Linked DNA regions of Homo sapiens. The protein of the gene in region 2 purifies or fractionates together with the protein of the main gene of each other region. This does not show direct contact. Each region holds a gene or a part of one and is shown on either strand. Other genes may lie near its edges.

What was found.
Region 1: the proteins of AKAP5 (region 2) and PRKACB purify together in Homo sapiens (affinity purification with mass spectrometry; 5 studies listed by BioGRID and IntAct, with this or other methods). This does not show direct contact.

Annotation. Positions count from the first base shown.
Region 1 is NC_000001.11:84,229,071-84,240,247, reverse strand, and holds the end of PRKACB (cAMP-dependent protein kinase catalytic subunit beta), read right to left. Parts: intron 5,069-11,177; coding exon 4,943-5,068; 3' UTR 1,750-4,942; downstream 1-1,749. UniProt on the Homo sapiens protein: Mediates cAMP-dependent signaling triggered by receptor binding to GPCRs.
Region 2 is NC_000014.9:64,457,294-64,468,840, reverse strand, and holds the start of AKAP5 (A-kinase anchor protein 5), read right to left. Parts: upstream 3,343-11,547; 5' UTR 3,228-3,342; intron 710-3,227; 5' UTR 447-709; coding exon 1-446. Other genes in the region: MTHFD1 (C-1-tetrahydrofolate synthase, cytoplasmic), read right to left, coding at 8,906-9,082. UniProt on the Homo sapiens protein: Multivalent scaffold protein that anchors the cAMP-dependent protein kinase/PKA to cytoskeletal and/or organelle-associated proteins, targeting the signal carried by cAMP to specific intracellular effectors.

The DNA.
Region 1 (11,177 bases), on a different chromosome or scaffold from region 2:
GTTGTTAGAACTCCTGAACTGTAAGAAAATAAATTTATGTTGTTTTAAGCTACTAAGTTTGTGGAGACTTGTTAGAGCAGCAGTAGAAAACTAATACATTAAGGTCATCATTTGCTGTGAGCATTACTAACCTCTGATAATCAGGAGAGGAAGAACCAGCTGGGGTATTCTCATTAACCCTTTATTTGCACTCCCACTTTCCTTTTGGCCATTTCATTGTTAGTATCACCACTAAAAGATGAGCAGAGACTGTAAACTCAATGAATCTGGTGTGCTTAATTTTATGTTATATTAGCACTGCTTTGAGAGAAGGGCTATCCTTCCATGGGTAAGTCTGACCTGGAAGTAGTAGTGGTTTGAGTTACTCATGCCTTCCCTTACTCCCAGTATCTCAGTGGCTACTGTTTCCTACTTCCTGCTTGTATTCCAGGAAGAATAGAAACAAGATAGCAGGTGCACTGAGGTTTGTGACCACACTGATTTTTTTTTTTGCCTGTGGTAAATTCAGTTTTGCCCACGTATAAAGCATATGAAGGGAAATCAATGCAAGTCTTTCACCATGAGAATACTTAGCTCAGCGGGTGTATTATAGTTTGTTATGGCTGCCATGATGAAGTATCACAGACTGGGCAGCTTAAACAACTGAAATTTATTTTTCACAATTCTTGAGTCTAGAAGTCCCAAGTCAAGATGTTGGCAAAGTCAGCTTCTTTGGAGGCCTCTGTCCTTGCCCTATAGATGGTCATCTTCTTCCTATGTCTTTACGTGGTCCTCCCTTTGTCTGTGTGCTTCTTATGAGGACATCAGTCATCTTGGATGAAGTCTTCCCATATGACCTCATTTTACTTTAATTACCTCTTCAAAGGCCTTACCTCCTAAAACAATCACATGCTGAGGTACTAGTGGTTAGAATTTCAGTATGAATTTTGTTCACAGTTCACAATCCAGGTCATAACAACAGGCATAAAGGCTATTAAATAAGCATATGGAAAATCTTCAGGAAAGCTTAAATGAAAAGTACTTAACTTCACATCCAGTATTTGTGCACAAGAGAAAATTTACAGCTAAATAGATTTCAAATGATGATAGTTCTTCAGTAAAGACATACCTAGATTTTTGTAATTAGTTTTACAAGGAAATGAGAAAACTGCATTTATATTAAGCCCTGATAATGATAAAATGAAGCGAGCACTGGTATAAAAATAGTAAGCTCCATGTTATAAAATGCATAAATAGAAATGTTTGCAAGAACAATCATACAAAATGGCAAGCCATTAAAATAATTACCTAAAGAAATGATTATTTCTTGAGGTAAAAGACAACTATGGAAATACACACTAATTAACCTGTCTAAAATGAAAAGAGGTAATGTGAAGCTCAAAAACACTCCTGAAGAAAAAATTAGAAATTAATATTTCATTGTTACAATAGAAGGATGAGTGCTCTTGAAGAATCAAATCCTTTAAATATGAATATTTAGAACATTATGTTAGCAGTAATCTGAACCAATATGAGAAATGAGAAAGAAGTAGAAACACTTTTGAGAAACTATTAAATGAATCTAGCAGTTTCTTAGTAAACATCCAGTGTGAGTAGACTGGCGGATATATTCCTCCCCAATGTGCTCTGCTCCCACCACCCAGAAATCAACCCAAACACATAAAAACTAGGAATCTATAAGCATCTCTTGTATCAGCGGAAAATAAATCAGGAGATGAGGGCACCAAGTAGAATTCACGACTCAATCAATTGTCTTATCCATTGAAGGTACTTTAATTTTGCAGTTATTGATTAATTAAAAAACACAGTTGTTTTCAGCATTTCCTAGCTACAGTAGTGCATAGGAAATTCCATTCTAAACAAAGAAGTAATTAATGAAATAACAACACACCTTAACATTTTACATTGATAGGTTACAGTTTACAAGGTGCTTTCACATACATTATTTCATTTGATTCTTACAACAAGCAGAAAAAACAGTGGGAAAGATTTTTTTTTTCAGGCTTACAATGAGTATTTTCAGGCCAATGGGCAGTTAACACAAGAATATACCAAGAATGAGACAGCAATACCCATAAGCCACAATATCGTTTTTGGTAGGTTGACAGTTTGATTCAACTGGGTATTCAGCATCGGTGAGTGAGAAAGGAATTAGGACAGACACCAAGGCTCTTATGATATTCAAATAATTTTAAGAACACTGTCAGAGATAAGAAGAAAGATGCCCTAAAATATATTGCCTTATTGAGACTTACTTCAAAGCAATATACCCTTCAAAATATCAGATAAAAAGACAATCTTGTCATCGACTGTGAAAGTTAGGAGGAATCTTACAAACTGCCTAATCCAGTTCTTCCATTTTACAGACAAGAGAACTGAGGCTGAGATCATACTGATAGTTTTCCAGCCTGAAATTCAGATGTCTTGACTTTCAGTCTAGGGCTCCTTCTTACACAATGCCATCTCTTAATTATTTACTGAGCATAACATAATATCTTCTGTTTCAAATATGTAATTTTAGGTTAAATACTGATTTATGCTACTTACTTCTTATTCAAGTTTTTATCTTATTCTTGGCTAAATTGTGGCTGAAACTGGGAATGTTACATACTTTAAAAATATTCTAATTTAGTGTACTTGATTGGTCAGAAATTGACTCCCTTGACATATTTGCTCATGACAAGCTTGCTCACGGCCTTTAAATAGAGAGTAAAATGGAATGGCTGAATAGCCCTCAAAACCAACGTATGTCTAGGGATCATCTACCTAAGGTAGATTCTACAGCTGGGCACTAGTAATTTCATAGAAAAAAATATTTTTTAGAATTCATAGAAATCTTTTTGATTACTGAAAACTAAATTGTAATAATCAAATTGTCATCCCCATGACTTATTAAAATAATTTTACAATAATATACAACAAAGCTACCATAGAATTTGTAGTTTACATATAGAACACATTGGTCAGCATGTTCTTGGGTCTAAATGAAATACAAGAAAATTAAAATATTTTATACGAATGATGTTTTAAATTTATTAACATGACGATATGCCTTTGTTACACAAAACTTGCTAGAGCAGAGTATTTTATTTTTTTCTTGCACGTTTTAAATATAGATGGACCAGTGAAATCAATATCAGCATTTACATGACATTACCATGCAGAAACACTTGATAACCGAAAGACATATAGATTGGTAGAAAGAACATCTCAGACAGGTTTTTTTTATGTCTTCAAAGGTTTCACCAGGGTGTGGTACAGATGAAAAGAAGTGGTGTTAATGACCTACCTGCACCGATAATAAAGCAAATAGAATGATTATATACATTAAGATCAGCTTGATTAAAAATAAATTTTATATGCAGGTAAATTGATCATTAAAATGAACCCAGTTTAACTCTTCTCGTGTGTTGTTTTAAGGTAGGTCACTGAAACGCAGAGATAAAATCAGATGGGGAAAATTAAAAGCAAAGAAAAAAATAGCAAAACAAGTGGGTTAAGCCATGGATTCTCAACAAACACTGAACTAAATGTGCAAAAGTGCTTGAAATTTCCACCTGACAGCAATGTTGTTAAGTCAGTTGGCAAAAAAAAGTGTAGGAAAAAAACTAACCTCTCAAATACCAACATTGTATCTGCATGATCGATCAGACATTCTGTTTACTGAGAGAACAGAGGTTAGAAATTATGAAATATCTGAAAATATCATACCTCAAAATTAAAATACAATTGTGGCAGTTTTATACACTTTGTTCCCTTTCCTCATTGATGAGGCATGGGATGAAAGCAGAAGTTGCAGCAGTGCCCCTACCCTAGGCTCACAAATATAGTACACCACAATAATTAGCTGGAAACAACTTCTTTTTAACGGTTACAAAACAAAACAAATGTAAACCCTCATTTAAATATGAATACCTCTATATTGTTTCCAAAAATCAAGCCATTTTTGACTTTGCAAAGTATAAGTATTTATCTAAACCAATGTTCTTTTTAGTTTGCTTATTTTCCTTTAAAAAGTTTATGATGAGGACTATTAGAGAAAATTTAAAATTTGTCACTTTCATTAATCATGTTCTATTAAAATACTGGCTAAAATCCTTAAGGAACAGTTAAGGTTTAGAAAACTTAGAACTCTTCTCTAATACCTACAGAAATGCTGGTACCAAGTGAGAGAATCTGGGTGATGATCCATATCATTAGTTTTTCCTGCTGAATGAGACACGTTTGTCACACTACACAGGCTGGTCACTTCATTACTCAAGGAGAGGAGGATATAAAAGGAGGGAAAGGGAACTAGAACCTCTGATCTACAGCCTTCCAAATTTCTGGGTCTAGCTGTACTGTATTAGTCTACCAAAATTTATTGCCAGAATAGTGAATTCCAAGAAAGTTAGTCTTAATTTGTATAAATTTCCTTGGTGATAAGACAGTCTATCTTCAAAAATTACCAAGAGTTTTGGCAAAACCAAGTCTGAGCTACTCAAAGAAATAATAATTATTAGAAAGTTTATCTTCAAGCCATTGACCAACAACAATATTGGCAATAACTACTGAAAGCAACACTTATCCTTCCCTTCAAATATCACGTAGCCATAACACTGCCCATCTGAAACACCAACAAAATAAAATGGAGCACTGTTTAGAGAAAACCAATGAAATTGGAAAAGGAAGAAATGGATATAGGAGAGGAGAAAGACAACCCAAAGAGAAGTAAGAAAGTGGTCTAGTACTGTGTTATGGCACAGACAATGCTTGCTTAGCGGTGCCTTGTTACATAGGTGGATGCAGAGTGCGCACACGGGATGATGGCAATAAAGACCTCACTCAGTCGTTGGAATGAAGGAACTAGGTAACTGCTTCAACAAGGACGGTCTCAGCTCTACCTTATCTCTCAACAGAGTGCAAACACTGAGTGTGAGCTCAGATGTCATCTTGTTCCTCTTTAAAATTCACCAAATTCTTTTGCACATTTTTCTGTTATAGAGACACGGATATCTTCTTCTTCATAGTCATCAAAGTTGCTGGTATCTCCAGAGCCTCTAAACTTTGGTATGAATGGAGCTTCAACCTATAATTGAGAGGGAGAGAAAAATAAGAAAAAGGAAAAAAAAATTCCTGAGAGTTTCCAAACACCAAGAAAAATAAATTCCCACTGTTATTACACGGTGAAATCCTTAGATGCCATTAGGTTCCTAAAATATAATAGTGCTAGAAGAAGCAGCAAGCAGTAGGTTAGCTATTAACCTCAACATTTTGATTCAAGGAAGTATGCAGGTCAACAAAATACTTAAGAAATTTCTGGGATAAGAGGAGAAGCCAAGATGGCCGAATAGGAACAGGTACGGTCTACAGCTCCCAGCGTGAGGGACACAGAAGACGGGTGATTTCTGCATTTCCATCTGAGGTACCAGGTTCATCTCACTAGGGAGTGCCAGACAGTGGGCGCAGGTCAGTGGGTGCACGCACCGTGTGCGAGCCGAAGCAGGGCAAGGCATTGCCTCACTCAGGAAGCGCAAGGGGTCAGGGAGTTCCCTTTCCTAGTCAAAGAAAGGGGTGACAGACGGCACCTGGAAAATCAGGTCACTCCCACCCGAATACTGCGCTTTTCCCACGGGCTTAAAAAACGGCGCACCAGGAGATTATATCCTGCACCTGGCTTGGAGGGACCTACGCCCACGGAGTCTCGCTGATTGCTAGCACAGCAGTCTGAGATCAAACTGCAAGGTGGCAGTGAGGCTGGGGGAGGGGCGCCCGCCATTGCCCAGGCTTGCTTAGGTAAACAAAGCAGCTGGGAAGCTCGAACTGGGTGGAGCCCACCACAGCTCAAGGAGGCCTGCCTGCCTCTGTAAGCTCCACCTCTGGGGGCAGGGCACAGACAAACAAAAAGACAGCAGTAACCTCTGCAGACTTAAATGTCCCTGTCTGACAGCTTTGAAGAGAGCAGTGGTTCTCCCAGCACACAGCTGGAGATCTGAGAACGGGCAGACTGCTTCCTCAAGTGGGTCCCTGACCCCTGACCCCTGAGCAGCCTAACTGGGAGGCACCCCCCAGCAGGGGAACACTGACACCTCATAGGGCCAGGTACTCCAACAGACCTGCAGCTGAGGGTCCTGTCTGTTAGAAGGAAAACTAACAAACAGAAAGGACATCCACACCAAAAACCCATCTGTACATCACCATCATCAAAGACCAAAAGTAGATAAAACCACAAAGATGGGGAAAAAACAGAGCAGAAAAACTGGAAACTCTAAAAAGCAGAGCGCCTCTCCTCCTCCAAAGGAACGCAGTTCCTCACCAGCAACGGAACAAAGCTGGACGGAGAATGACTTTGACGAGCTGAGAGAAGAAGGCTTCAGACGATCAAATTACTCTGAGCTACGGGAGGACATTCAAACCAAAGGCAAAGAAGTTGAAAACTTTGAAAAAAATTTAGAAGAATGTATAACTAGAATAACCAATACAGAGAAGTGCTTAAAGGAGCTGATGGAGCTGAAAACCAAGGCTCGAGAACTACGTGAAGAATGCAGAAGCCTCAGGAGCCGATGCGATCAACTGGAAGAAAGGGTATCAGCAATGGAAGATGAAATGAATGAAATGAAGCGAGAAGGGAAGTTTAGAGAAAAAAGAATAAAAAGAAACGAGCAAAGCCTCCAAGAAATATGGGACTATGTGAAAAGACCAAATCTACGTCTGATTGGTGTACCTGAAAGTGATGGGGAGAATGGAACCAAGTTGGAAAACACTCTGCAGGATATTATCCAGGAGAACTTCCCCAATCTAGCAAGGCAGGCCAACATTCAGATTCAGGAAATACAGAGAACGCCACAAAGATACTCCTCGAGAAGAGCAACTCCAAGACACATAATTGTCAGATTCACCAAAGTTGAAATGAAGGAAAAAATGTTAAGGGCAGCCAGAGAGAAAGGTCAGGTTACCCTCAAAGGGAAGCCCATCAGACTAACAGCGGATCTCTCGGCAGAAACTCTACAAGCCAGAAGAGAGTGGGTGCCAATATTCAACATTCTTAAAGAAGAGAATTTTCAACCCAGAATCTCATATCCAGCCAAACTAAGCTTCATAAGTGAAGGAGAAATAAAATACTTTACAGACAAGCAAATGTTGAGAGACTTTGTCACCACCAGGCCTGCCCTAAAAGAGCTCCTGAAGGAAGTGCTAAACATGGAAAGGAACAACCGGTACCAGTTGCTGCAAAATCATGCCAAAATGTAAAGACCATCGAGACTATGAAGAAACTGCATCAACTAACGAGCAAAATAACAAGCTAACATCATAATGACAGGATCAAATTCACACATAACAATATTAACTTTAAATGTAAATGGACTAAATTCTCCAATTAAAAGACACAGACTTGGCAAATTGGATAAAGAGTCAAGACCCATCAGTATGCTGTATTCAGGAAACCCATCTCACATGCAGAGACACACATAGGCTCAAAATAAAAGGATGGAGGAAGATCTACCAAGCAAATGGAAAACAAAAAAAGGCAGGGGTTGCAATCCTAGTCTCTGATAAAACAGACTTTAAACCAACAAAGATCAAAAGAGTCAAAAAAGGCCATTACATAATGGTAAAGGGATCAATTCAACAAGAAGAGCTAACTATCCTAAATATATATGCACCCAATACAGGAGCACCCAGATTCATAAAGCAAGTCCTGAGTGACCTACAAAAAGACTTAGACTCCCACACATTAATAATGGGAGACTTTAACACCCCACTGTCAACATTAGACAGATCAATGAGACAGAAAGTCAACAAGGAATTGAACTCAGCTCTGCACCAAGTGGACCTAATAGACATCTACAGAACTCTCTACCCCAAATCAACAGAATATACATTTTTTTCAGCACCACACCACACCTATTCCAATATTGACCACAGAGTTGGAAGTAAAGCTCTCCTCAGCAAATGTAAAAGAACAGAAATTATAACAAACTATCTCTCAGACCACAGTGCAATCAAACTAGAACTCAGGATTAAGAATCTCACTCAAAACCGCTCAACTACATGGAAACTGAACAACCTGCTCCTGAATGACTACTGGGTACATAACGAAATGAAGGCAGAAATAAAGATGTTCTTTGAAACCAACGAGAGCAAACACACAACATACCAGAATCTCTGGGACACATTCAAAGCAGTGTGTGGAGGGAAATTTATGGCACTAAATGCCCACAAGAGAAAGCAGGAAAGATCCAAAATTGACACCCTAACATCACAATTAAAAGAACTAGAAAAGCAAGAGCAAACACATTCAAAAGCTAGCAGAAGGCAAGAAATAACTAAAATCAGAGCAGAACTGAAGGAAATAGAGACACAAAAAACCCTTCAAAAAATTAATGAATCCAGGAGCTGGTTTTTTGAAAGGATCAACAAAATTGATAGACTGCTAGCAAGACTAATAAAGAAAAAAGAGAGAAGAATCAAATAGACGCAATAAAAAATGATAAAGGGGATATCACCACCAATCCCACAGAAATACAAACTACCATCAGAGAATACTACAAACACCTCTACGCAAATAAACTAGAAAATCTAGAAGAAATGGATAAATTCCTCGACACATACACTCTCTGAAGACTAAACCAGGAAGAAGTTGAATCTCTGAATAGACCAATAACAGGATCTGAAATTGTGGCAATAATCAATAGCTTACCAACCAAAAAGAGTCCAGGACCAGATGGATTCACAGCCGAATTCTACCAGAGGTACAAGGATGAATTGGTACCATTCCTTCTGAAACTATTCCAATCAATAGAAAAAGAGGGAATCCTCCCTAACTCATTTTATGAGGCCAGCATCATCCTGATACCAAAGCCAGGCAGAGACACAACCAAAAAAGAGAATTTTAGTCCAATATCCTTGATGAACATTGATGCAAAAATCCTCAATAAAATACTGGCAAACCAAATCCAGCAGCACATCCAAAAGCTTATCCACCATGATCAAGTGGGCTTCATCCCTGGGATGCAAGGCTGGTTCAATATATGGAAATCAATAAATGTAATCCAGCATATAAACAGAACCAAAGAAAAAACCACATGATTATCTCAATAGATGCAGAAAAGGCCTTTGACAAAATTCAACACGCTAAAAACTCTCAATAAATTAGGTATTGATGGGACGTATTTCAAAATAATAAGAGCTATCTATGACAAACCCACAGCCAATATCATACTGAATGGGCAAAAACTGGAAGCATTCCCTTTGAAAACTGGCACAAGACAGGGATGCCCTCTCTCACCACTCCTATTCAACATAGTGTTGGAAGTTCTGGCCAGGGCAATTAGGCAGGAGAAGGAAATAAAGGGTATTCAATTAGGAAAAGAGGAAGTCAAATTGTCCCTGTTTGCAGACATGATTGTATATCTAGAAAACCCCATTGTCTCAGCCCAAAATCTCCTTAAGCTGATAAGCAACTTCAGCAAAGTCTCAGGATACAAAATCAATGTACAAAAATCACAGGCATTCTTATACACCAACAACAGACAAACAGAGAGCCAAATCATGAGTGAACTCCCATTCACAATTGCTTCAAAGAGAATAAAATACCTAGGAATCCAACTTACAAGGGATGTGAAGGACCTCTTCAAGGAGAACTACAAACCACTGCTCAAGGAAATAAAAGAAGATACAAACAAATGGAAGAACATTCCATGCTCATGGGTAGGAAGAATCAGTATCATGAAAATGGCCATACTGCCCAAGGTAATTTATAGATTCAATGCCATCCCCATCAAGCTACCAATGACTTTCTTCACAGAATTGGAAAAACTACTTTAAAGTTCATATGGAACCAAAAAAGAGCCCGCATCGCCAAATCAATCCTAAGCCAAAAGAACAAAGCTGGAGGCATCTCACTACCTGACTTCAAACTATACTACATGGCTACAGTAACCAACACAGCATGTTACTGGTACCAAAACAGAGATATAGATCAATGGAACAGAACAGAGCCCTCAGAAATAATGCCACATATCTACAACTATCTGATCTTTGACAAACCTGAGAAAAACAAGCAATGGGGAAAGGATTCCCTATTTAATAAATGGTGCTGGGAAAACTGGCTAGCCATATGTGGAAAGCTGAAACTGGATCCCTTCCTTACACCTTATACAAAAATCAATTCAAGATGGGTTAAAGACTTAAACGTTAGACCTAAAACCATAAAAACCCTAGAAGAAAACCTAGGCATTACCATTCAGGACATAGGCATGGGCAAGGACTTCATGTCTAAAACACCAAAAGCAATGGCAACAAAAGCCAAAATTGACAAATGGGATCTAATTAAACTAAAGAGCTTCTGCACATCAAAAGAAACTACCATCAGAGTGAACAGGCAACCTACAAAATGGGAGAAAATTCTTGCAACCTACTCATCTGACAAAGGGCTAATATCCAGAATCTACAATGAACTCAAACAAATTTACAAGAAAAAAATAAACAACCCCATCAAAAAGTGGGCAAAGGACATGAACAGACACTTCTCAAAAGAAGACATTTATGCAGCCAAAAAACACATGAAAAAATGCTCACCATCACTGGCCATCAGAGAAATGCAAATCAAAACCACAATGAGATATCATCTCACACCAGTTAGAATGGCAAACATTAAAAAGTCAGGAAATAACAGGTGCTGGAGAGGATGTGGAGAAATAGGAACACTTTTACACTGTTGGTGGGACTGTAAACTAGTTCAACCATTGTGGAAGTCAGTGTGGCGATTCCTCAGGGATCTAGAACTAGAAATACCATTTGACCCAGCCATCCCATTACTGGGTATATACCCAAAGGACTATAAATCATGCTGCTATAAAGACACATGCACACGTATGTTTATTGCGGCATTATTCACAATAGCAAAGACTTGGAACCAACCCAAATGTCCAACAAAGATAGACTGAATTAAGAAAATGTGGCACATATACACCATGGAATACTATGCAGCCATAAAAAATGATGAGTTCATGTCCTTCGTAGGGACATGGATGAAATTGGAAATCATCATTCTCAGTAAACTATCGCAAGAACAAAAAACCAAACACTGCATATTCTCACTCATAGGTGGGAACTGAACAATGAGAACACATGGACACAGGAAGGGGAACATCATACTCTGGGGACTGTTACGGGGTGGGGGGAGGGGGGAGGGA
Region 2 (11,547 bases):
TCTGAGTCTTCTATAATTTTGGAATGATTACTCCTTTTTGGCCCTCTTGGGAATTTTATGCAGGGAATCTTAAGTCTAGATTTTGCCTTTTTCTTAGAAAGATCAGCATCCTCAGCATTTATTGCAGGTTGCATTTCACCCTCCAATGGCTTTTGCTGCTTTGAAGACTCTGACCTTTTCCTGCGTGTTACAAGACGTTTGAGTGAGGCCCAGGCCCCCCGTGTGGGCTCTGGCTGATCAGAAGCTCCTGCTTCTTGTGGACACTTCCTTGCCACATCAGCAGCTTCAGAGCCAGCTTTGGGCTTCAGTGCTTTGGCTGCTTTCTTTCTTCTCTTGAAGCAAAGCATGGATGCCTTTTCCTTCTGCCTTTCAGCCCCAGGACTACCTTCTGCTGATCTCTTCTCATCCTTGTTTTCTACATGAATTTCTGAAATTGTGGTTTCCATTTTTACACTGCACTCTTATTCTCTAGAAAACTGTATTCTCTCTTCCTTAGCAGCCTTTTGTGACAAAAAGATGAGCAAAAATGTCACACTAGGTAAAATTTCTTCCAGGCATATTCATACCTTTCATCTTACTCCATACAGTTGTTTTAGGTGGTTTCTCTAGTATAGAAATGCCCAGTTTCTCTATGGCTTGTAATTTCTCTCTTTAATTTCTTGATGAAAGCCCTTCTTTGGATAAATTTTTGCTTTATTTAAAGATCAACCTGATGAGAGAAAAGAAAGTGGTATTTTATTTCACTATGAGCCTATTATTTTCTGTGGAGACTATTTCAGTGAATGTATAAGATTCTACCAGGCATATTTTCCATATAATAACTTAATGAAATGACTGGAGAATAAACATTGGGGTTTACTTTGGCCCTATTAAAGAGTTCAGTGTGATTCTATTTTGTTTTATCCTCCTTGTTGAAACTTCATTTTGGATTACCCTGCAAGTCTGATATTATCAGTTCTTTAGTTGTGTTGTCTGTGTGAATTGCTTATGACTCTAAAGTGCAAGTTAAGCAAACAACAAGAACCAAAAATGAAGTGCAGGATGAAAAGCAAGCTGATGTAATCTTTATCACACTCAATAGATAATTTTAAAGCTGCAAAGGACTTTAGAGATTATTTGAGATTACTCAAATCCAGCCAGATGACAAAACTGAACTCCAGAGGGGAGCAGTTGTCTTGTCAAAAGCCATGCAACTAGATAAGGTCATAGCCAGAGTTAGAACTAGAGACTTTGACTCTCTAGTTTTACCATTATAACATAAGGTTTCTGTTCTAAAAATGTATGTTCCATCAAGGAAGTGCTATTTTTCATACATATTCTTAGGAAAATTTAGCATTACTGTCATTTCCCACTCTTAAATTAGTTGTACAATTTTGACATTTTCATTTAAGTACTGTATCTGCTGTATCACATGTTTCCACCATAATCTGCACATAGTTGGAAGTCAGTAAGAGTAGTAATAGCTGACATTTATTGAGCAATTCTTGGGTATTAGGCAGTGCATGCACTTTTACATACATCTCTAATCCTCACCACAATATTACAAAGATGGTGGTATCACCACGTACAGATGAAGCAATTTGGCTGAGATTACGGCAGAGCTGTAACAGAGCTCAGATTAACACAAGATTGCTTGTTGCTTAAAGCTTATGTTCTGAAACTGGGCTTTAAGAGTTTCGTCAGAAAATGAATTGTTTGGGGATACTAATCTGCAGTGTTTCATTAGTAAAAAAATTAAAAAATTGATTAATGGTCATTTAACCATAAGGCACTTATCAACTCATAATTGAACCACGAGTAGACTGAGTTCTTGTCATTTGAAAACCAAGCTTTTGAAATTCTTTATATTTTATTTTTTTGGTTCAGGAACTAATTTAAAAGCCAAAAATAAGTTGGCAAACTATGCAATTGGCAAACTTAGATAATATAAAGGTGTATTGAAAATTTAATCCTTAGAATGGTATGATGGCACCAAAGAATGGAAATGGGAGGTGATTATCCAACAAAGATCCTATGAATTTTAGTGGGTGGATGCCCTAAAATAAGCAAAGGGACTCATTCTTTATATTGTTTTTATGTAAATCCTTCACTGAAGTTTCATTTGGGTAACCCATAATTTTATGAACTGTAGAAGGAACTGGAACCCTGAAAATCAGTTTATGATCTAAGTAAATATTATCTTAGGTTGGGTGTTTCATACTGTGTGCCTCTAACAGAAAGATAAAGTCATTCTAGAACAATGACGGAACTAAAATATGAACATTTGACAGTGTTTCTCCTCACAATGTTTCAGTGAGCACTAGAACCTAAGCTGATAACTGTTTAAATCTTCTCACCTCTTGTGAGTTTTCAGCACCTGAGCATTTTTGTTAAGCAGAGGCTGTATTACCACATAATAGAAATATTGAAATGAGATGTTTAGGAGTCTGTCATTGGAAACTAACCTGGATTGCGCAAAGACAATCGTTTGAGAAGCTCACTTGAATGTATCTCACATACTAGAAATAAAACGAATACCCAAACAGAAACTTAACTAACGAGGGAAAATAATGCAGTCTGTAGACAATAAAACTTTGCAGAATGTCAGACTGCAAATGATTCGCTCTTAACCAGCAAGGGTAGCTTTATCGCCTCAGGAAATCTTAAAGTCCCTGTGCTCATTTCCTGATGGAATTGCAAGTCTCATGTCACAGAAAACACCCCCTTTCCTTTTTCCCTTGAGCAGCCAGTACCCGAGGAAAGCAATGCATCTTTCCCAGCACCAGATACGGACCACGAAGCTTCCTCCTGGAGGAAGGAATCTCGAATTCTGGCTTGACGCCCCTTATGGCAGGAGACAGAGCGCAGGATAAAGTACTCAAAAAGGAAAATGCCGGGGGCGTGGAACAGATAACCCAGCTTCAGGCTGTCTGCAGAATTATAATGTAATGGCCAGAAACCCAAAATCACATTTCTCAAAGAGGGATAAAGAAGGAAAAAAGCCACCGGCAACCCATGCTTCTAAGACAAGCTGTAACGCGAAGGGGATAGGTGGGCAGACCTGATGAGGGTCGCCCTGGCCGCGGATTCCAGCGGACAAGCGACCTCCCGCGTTCTTACTCCCAGCACCTCAGAGGGCTCGGATACCCCGTATCCAGTGGGCACCTCTTGCCCACTCCGCGGTCCGCGGACCGGACATTGCCCCCGACCCTCCTCCCCCGCAGGCTCCCCGCCCTGCCTTTACTTACGTAGGGCGTCGGGGTCCTTGGCCAACACTGCTCCCGAGGTGGCGGCGCGCTCGCGGGGCCCGCCGCCCAGGCCTCCAGGGAGCCGCGGTCGCACCCGGAGCAAGGCGCCCTCTGCAGAGCCCGCCGCCGGGTGCGCCCCCTCCCCACCGCGCGGGGACAGACAGCAGGCAGCGCCAATGCGAGCGGAGCGGAGCGGGCGGGCAGGGGCGGGGCGACCGCCGGAGGCGCGGGGCGGCGCGGGCGCCGGGACCCACCTGCAGCAGCAGCCTGCCTGCCTGCCGCGGGGAAGCCCATCGTGCTCCGCCCGGGCGCCAATCTCCACTGCCAGACCACATCAGCGCCGAGGCGGGGACCGCAAGAGAGCCAGCCGGAAGGTTCGGGGGGCGGGGGAAGGCGGGGGGGACCAGGGCAATGAACCCCGCGTTTTCTGAGACGCTAAATAGTGAGGTCCGGTTTCAAATTATAGACAGTCGCATTACACATCTCCTCTCCTCCCCCTCAGAATATTTAAAGACAAGGCAGACATCGCATTTTAAAAGCAGGATTCAAAACTGTGCATAGAATAGCGAGGTCATGTTTGTTTGAAGCGAAAATTACATATATAAATGGAAACAGAAAGAAACCCGACTTTCTCAGGAGTGGCTTGAGTGTCAGATCATCGTGGTTCATCGCCAAACAGGCTTTCAAACCTTTGTCTCCCAGTGGGAAGCAGGTGGAGGTGATTGGTGCAGAACTTTGGCCTGCAGGAGCAGCTGCATCTCTATGCGGACAAGGTGAGAAAGGCACAGGAACCCAGCTCCATCCATCTTATACCTTACATAGTTCCAAAAATAAGTTGAGGTAGCTTACAAGTTACCCATGATTCCCTTCAGGACATTCCCTATGAGGGCATTCCTGGGAGCTCCAGCTGTAAAATCTAGTAGGATCCATCACAATCCCAGCCTCCTCCTCTGGCCCCCATAGCATAGCATCCAGATGAAGAACCTGGTAAGGTGAAGTGAAGAACTACTGAAAAGCAGCCGCGTTCATCTCCTTTCTTCAACAGGATCACGACCTTAGGGAGTGTAAATGTCAGGTGTCCATTTTTGTATTTTTTCCGGAAATGTTTTATATTTGTAAGATTCTGTAGTTTCCACAGAGGCTTATCAAGGAAAGAACTCTTGAGACACAAAAGCAAAGCCAAATATAAGCTGTCAAGATCTTAAAATTACAGATAAAAGAGGCAAGAGTTGTAAAACAGGAAAATCCATAAGCATCTAGTTTAGTTGTAATTAAGAATTCAGGGATGGGCGCAGTAGCTCACACCTGTAATCCCAGCACTTTGGGAGGCCAAGGCAGGAGGATGGCTTGAGTCCAAGAGTTTGAGACCAGCCTGGGCAACATAGGGAGACAAAAAAATCTAAAAAATTAGCTGGGCATGGTGGTGCACGTATGGTCCCAGTTACTCAGGAGCTCAGGAGGCTGAGAAGGGAGGATCACTTGGGCCCAGAAGGTCAAGGCTGCTGTGAGCCACTACTGCACCACTGCACGCCAGCCTGGGCAACAAAGTGAGACCCTGCCTCAAAAAAAAAAAAAAATTCAGTCAGCCTTGTTCACTCAGCAAACACGTCTATCGAAATGGTCTGCGTATCTCTCTATGGGTTGCTAGCGCTGCTTGTTGCCAGTTTTGAACTTTAAGCCAAAAGAAATCCATTATGCTTATAAGCAATTGAGAACTATTCCTTATTGAGATCCAAGGTTTCTCAAAACTAGCAGACCTGGGAGTTTGCAAGAGTTTCAGGCAAAAAATAAGATGAGCTTATTTAGGTGAAGACAGGGTAAAATAGCTGTCTTATTTTTATTTTTATTTGAGACAGGGTCTTGCTCAGGCTGGAGTGCAGTGGTACAATCCCTGGCTCAAGCAATCCTCCCACCTCAGCCTCCCATGCAGCTGGGACCACAGGTATGCGACCACATGCCCAGGTTCTTCTTCTTTTTTTTTTTTTTGTAGAGATGGCGTCTCCCTATGTTGCCCAGGCTGGTCTTGAACTCCTGAGCTCAAGTGATCCTCCTGCCTTGACCTCCTACAGTGCTAGGATTACAGGTGTGAGCCCCCATGCCTGGCCTTCACTTGCCTTTCTTTTAAACAAAATTAGTAAAAGGGAACTGAAAGGCAGTTTGAGGTGAGAGATGAATTTATTTAGTATTTGAAGGGCAAATTCGGACAGACTTCCTTAAGGTATATTACAAACAAGTCATCCCTGACCTCCACCAACACACATACACACAGAGTCACTCACACAGAGTATAGTACTATAAATAACATAGCGCACCATAGTTTTTCTTTAGGATATGACTAGAACTCAATGCCATATGTGTGTGTGTGTGTGTGTGTGTGTGTGTGTGTTTAATGTATCCAGTACCTCATGCATGAAAGAAACCTGTCATTCCTGAATTCAGGTAAGTGACAACGAAGGCTGTTTAAGCTATTACCCATATCATTGTCTACTACCCCATTAGTAGCTTTTCATTATATAACAGGAAATAGGCTATAAATGTATTTCTGCAATCTGATGAGAAATTATCCTACCTATAGCTTATCATGTTAATATCACTAGATACAGTGTGCCAGTAAAATAGCTTACATATTTATCTGAGCAATACTCTACTGATCTTACCATTTATCCCATCTTGATCTCTACCCATTGCCTGGGCCTATAGCTACCAAAAATGACTTATAACTCCTTGTTAATAGCTCTTACATTTCAGAGGCCTTCTGGGAATAAGCCCTCCAACCCCGTTCCCTGGGACACCATTGAATGAACCTGAGGCTCCAAGTCTCTGGTGGTTTCATCTGTTCCTGGGCACCATGAGGGTTGCACAGAGCCAACACAAACTCAATAGTAATACTGTTGCAATCTGTTTAATGTGGCAGCACATAAATGCTATCTCTTTTGAATTAAGACTGTGTGTACATCTTCAGTGCACAGAAACAGCCTCTGAAGTGAGATCAGAGAATGTACAATTTGTTTATCAGTAATATTACTAATAAGGGGAAGGAAGGCATTAGCAGCCCAGAGAAGAGAAAGGGCACGGGAAAGCCACTAATCTGGAGGGACTCTTAGCACCAAGGTAAAGGCACTAGACCTTCTCTGCCAGCACATGCTAATAGTTACCCCAAGCACTAATGCTTCTATAGGTCTTTTTTATTTTGACACAGGGTCTTGCTCTGTTGCTCAGGCTGGAATGCGGTGGCTCAGTCATAGCTCACTGCGGCCTCGAACTCCTAGGCTCAAGCAAACCTCTCACATCAGACTCCCAAGGAGCTAGGACTACAAGCGTGCACCACACACTCAGCTGAGTTTTGGGGTTTTGTTTTTTGTAGAGATGGGGTCTGTCTTGTCCAGGTTAGTCTTGAACTCCTGGGCTCAAGTGATCCTCCTGCCTCAGCAGCCTGGACAAGACAGTGAGACCCCATCTCTACAAAAAACAGAACTTCAAAACTCAGCTGAGTGTGGTGGGATTACAGGTGTGAGCTACCATGCCCAGCCCCTACCAGTATTGAGGATTTAAACCCATGTGGCTGTTGGCGATATTAGGAAACCTAAATCCTTTAAGATGATCCTTAAGTCACCATATCTGACAAGACTGCATCCTTCCCTTGTCTACAAAATGAATTCCCAGCAAATCCCATTCCAGGTGAAGTTTCACAGGACATTAAGAAATGTACCAGAAAGCGGTCGGGCACAGTGGCTCACGCCTGTAATCCCAGCACTTTGGGAGGCCGAGGTGGGAGGATCACTTGAGGCCAGGAGTTTGAGACCAGCCTGGCCAACATGGCAAAACCCCATCTATACTGAAAATACAAAAAATTAGCCAGGCATGGTGGTGCGAACCTGTAATCCCAGCTACTCGGGAGGCTGAGGTGGGAGAATCGCTTGAACCCGGGAGGCAGAGGTTGCAGTGAGCTGAGATCACGTCACTACACTGCAGCCTGGGCAAAAGAGCACGACTCTTGTCCCAACCCCCCTACCCCCCCTGCCAAAAAAAAAAAAAAAAAAGGAAAAAAAAAGTACCAGAAGCAATTAACTCTGCAAACAGGGCCTGGAGGATGCTGTGCAACAGGAACTGACAAGTGCTTACAATGTGCCAGGCCCTGTACAAAGCATCTTAGATGATGTGTTTGAGTAATTCCAGAACCGCCCTCACGAGGTAGGTACCAACAGTGCTCCTATTTCCATGGTGAGGATGTGGAGGCAGGGAGGTGGGTGAGGCTCTCTGCCATAGAGCTGGGGCTCTGCACTGTGACCCCTTTGCCATATGCCTCTCAAGGCAGCGCTATCATTTCTGTGGACTGTAAAATTGACTGTATTACAACATTGACATGGACCTAGGGAATTAAAAATAATAAAACCAAGGTCACTGGGAAAAATACTGCTTTGCCAACATCAGCAGTGTTTAGCACTGGCGCCAGTGGGATGCAGCATCCTCTGGAAGGATCCAGTGGAGGGAGACAAGGGGAAAAAGGGAAGGAAACAAATGGGAGAGGAAGAACAGAGATAGAAGATAAAGAACAAGAAGAGAAGGAAAAATATTTGATTTATTTTTTTAGACAGAGTCTAGCTCTGTCTCCCAGGCTGGAGTGCAGCAGCATGATCCTGGCTCACTGCAACCTCTGCCTCCTGGGTTCAAGCAATTCTCGTACCTCAGCCTCCCAAGTACCTGGGGTTATAGGTGCCTGCCACCACACCCAGCTAATTTTTGTATTTTTGGTAGAAACAGGGTTTTACCATGTTGGCCAAGCTGGTCTTGAACCCCAGACCTCAAGTGATCCGCCCACCTCGGCCTCCCAAAGTGCTGGGATTACAGGCATGAGCCACCTCCACGCCCAGCCAGAAGAGGAGGAAAAAAAATATTAGGTTGGTGCAAAAGTAATTGTGGTTTTTACCAACCTAATGTTTTAGGAAAAAGAAAGTCTGGGCCAGGTATGGTGGCTCATGCCTATAATCCCAGCTACTTGGGAGGCTGAGGCAGGAGAATCACTTGAACCCAGGAGACGGAGGTTGCAGTGAGCTGAGATCGCGCCACTGCACTCCAGCCTGGGCGACAGAGACACTGTCTCAAAAAAATAAAAATAAAAATAAAAAGTCTGTAGGGAAGGGTGGAGCCCAGGCATTTAGAAGAAACTCAATGAATACTTGCTGCACCAACAGAATAGAGGCTCACCTAAGGCTAATGCTGCATGACCATCCTTCTTGAGCACTCTAAACATAGACAGTGCTAAAGCTGTGACAGAAATGGGAATTCCAAGGAAGTTCAGGCAAAAACTTGTATAAGCAATACTTCCTCAGGGTAGAAAAACAAAATTCAACAATATAGAAAGGTATAAGATTAAAAGGTAAGTCATCAACTTCCAACCCAACCCTCTCAGGAGGTCCCCTGAATTATGTGTCCTCTCAGAAATACACAAGCATGCATACATTTCCCTCTAAACACAACAGTATCATAAAGGGCACACTGCAACTTGCATCTTCAGCCCAAGGGTCTGCCTGACAAATGAGCTCACAAAGGATGGCAGAGACCTGTGGCACAGTCTGTTAAGGCTGTAATTCATATTGCAACACCAAGATGGCAAACTTGTTTCCTTTTATTCTGTGGAACGTCACTAAAGTAAACAGACATGCATGATTTATGTTAATTTATACATGATGAGAATTAAGGCTGAAAATGACTTCTGGGGAAACTCCTACTATTAGTTTCAGATCTTCTGGGCAGGGGCTGACTTCTCTTGGCTTACTTATACTTCCTAACTCCCAGTGGGCCTGAATAGACACTGGCCAGACTTTCAAAGTAGCTTCTTGAAGATGGATGGTGATCTGGAAGGAAAAACAAGAAATAAATGTTTTCTCTAAGCAAGCACTGAAATGTTTCCTGTTCCTTCCATACTGCACCATTACCCACTCACATTGCCAAAGCTGTTAACATTTACATCCTTTCCTGCCACCAGCTCTTCTAGGGCGTGTCCATAAATGGACTTGAAAATGATGCATGGTATTTCCATAGTACTGTGTGAATACTGTTCAAGACCAGACCAAGCCGTGAGCCATGACTGCATTTCGAGTATCACACATACCCTCTCAAAGAATAGTGTTCTAGCATCAAACTACAGTTTGCTTCTACTTGGACCTTAACTTTCTCAAATAATGCAAGAGCTTTTGTTTTATACTATGACCCTTTGATATCCTTGTCTTTTCTAGCTTTTTCTAGTTTTTCTCAGGTGCTCCCCCAACCTGTTCCACACAGGATTTGTAACTTCAGGTCATTTGCATGGTTATCAGAATGCCCCTTCGCTAATGTCCAAATGAGGGTTCAGTTTCCCAAAACTCACGTCTTCCTTTTTTCTTGGTTAATTCCTCATTTTGCTAAGTACATTGCTAAATAACTTCTTAGGAAGAGATGTGGGGTGGCAAACCCTTGCACGTCTGAAAATATCCAGATAGATTCGGCTAGGTGTGAGCACATGTTGAAAGTCATCTTCCCTGTGACCTTACAGGACACTCCTCCATTGTCTAAAAGCTTCTTATTGCCAGTAAGACGGGCGTTAAGTCTAGTTCTCATTCTTTTCATAGGCAAGCCACTTTTTTCGTCTCTGGAGAAAGATGTTAGGATTTTCATGTTTGATATTTTTGCAGTTTCAACAGGATGTGTCTAGGGATATAAGTGCACACTGCAACTTGCTGCTTCAGCCCCAAGGGTCTGCCTAAGGAGAGACACGTCCTGTTGAAATTTCAAAAATATCAAACAATGCAATGTCACTCATTGCAGTCGGTACTCAGGGCCCTTTCACCTAAGGCCCTAAGAACTGCCAGATTGGTCCTGTTTCCTTCTCTTTTCTATTATACTTCCTAAGACATTTGCTAATTCTTGCCTTCTAACTACCTATTCAGAGTATACAGACCGTCAGCTGTTCCTGACCTGCAATGTGTCATCAACTCTGAACCCCAAGCCTCCTGGGGCTTCAGCAGAGGGAGTCTAACCTCTCCTGTAGTTTCCTCTGTAGTTTATTGGACAGCAGTTTTCTCCCCTACACTGTCAACCTGTGACAAGCCATGCTGCGCTTCTTCCAAAAATGTGTTGAAATATAAATATTTCAATTCATTGGTTATTGCCAACTCTCATTACTATCCCCTCTCCCCTCAGGGAAGTCTGAAAAGAAATGTTTTGAAAGCATTAGAATGTGAATTTTTATAGCGTCAGTTTGAGCCCTATAATTCATAAATAAGCTACATGAGGAAAAAAGCCAAATTATTACCCAGTAACAACTTACCTGTTTAGAATAATCCATTCACCTGTTCTGTTTCAGGGTCCAAATCAATATCATAAAAACAGGGCCGGGTGGGGAGTCCAGGCATTGTGCTCATCTAGGATGTAAAAAAGCATTACAAATAAACTAATGCTGGGCACAGTGGCTCACGCCTATAATCCCAGGCTGAGGTGGAGAGGATCACTTGAGGCCAGGAGTTCTAAACCACCCTGGGCAACATAGTGAGACCCCCATCTCTACAGGAAATAAAAAATTAGCTGGATATGATGGCATGTGCCTGTAGTTCCAGCTACTTGGGATGCTAAGGCAGGAGGATTGCTTGAGGCTAGGAGGTTGAGGCCACAGTGAGCCATGATCATCCGATTGCCTGGGCGACAGAGCAAGGCCATGTCTAAAATAAACGTAAAGTCATCTTTACTTTCACTTTTCCTTCAGAAAGAAAGCCCAAGGCATAAAGATAGAACATCATTTTATAGTTGTCAATAAAGTGGGTACTCTTGTTACATATTAAAAATCAAGTCACTGATCCTGTTAAAAAACTCAGAAACTGATCCCTGCCGGGCGTGGTGGCTCATGCCTATAATCCTAGCACTCTGGGAGGCCAAGGCAGATGGATCACCTGAGGTCAGGAATTTGAGACCAGCCTGACCAACATGGTGAAACCCCATCTCTACTAAAAATACAAAAATTAGCTGGGCATGGTGGCGTGTGCCTGTAATCCCAGCTACTTGGGAGGCTGAGGCAGGAGAATCGCTTGAACCTGGGAGGCGGAGGTTGCAGTGAGCCGAGATCTTGCCACTGCACTCCAGCCTGGGTGACAGAGCAAGACTCCATCTCAAAAAAAAAAAAAAGGAAAAGAAAAGAAACTGATTCCTCATGTCCTTCTGCAAACCAAATGCCAGCCTTCACTATCATCTTCCATGTGGTCACAAGCAGTAGCAGGAGGTGTTTCCACCTTCACCTTACAAGAATGAGTGCTGGGGAGTAGAGGAGTTGCTCACTCGCCTCCTCAGCTCA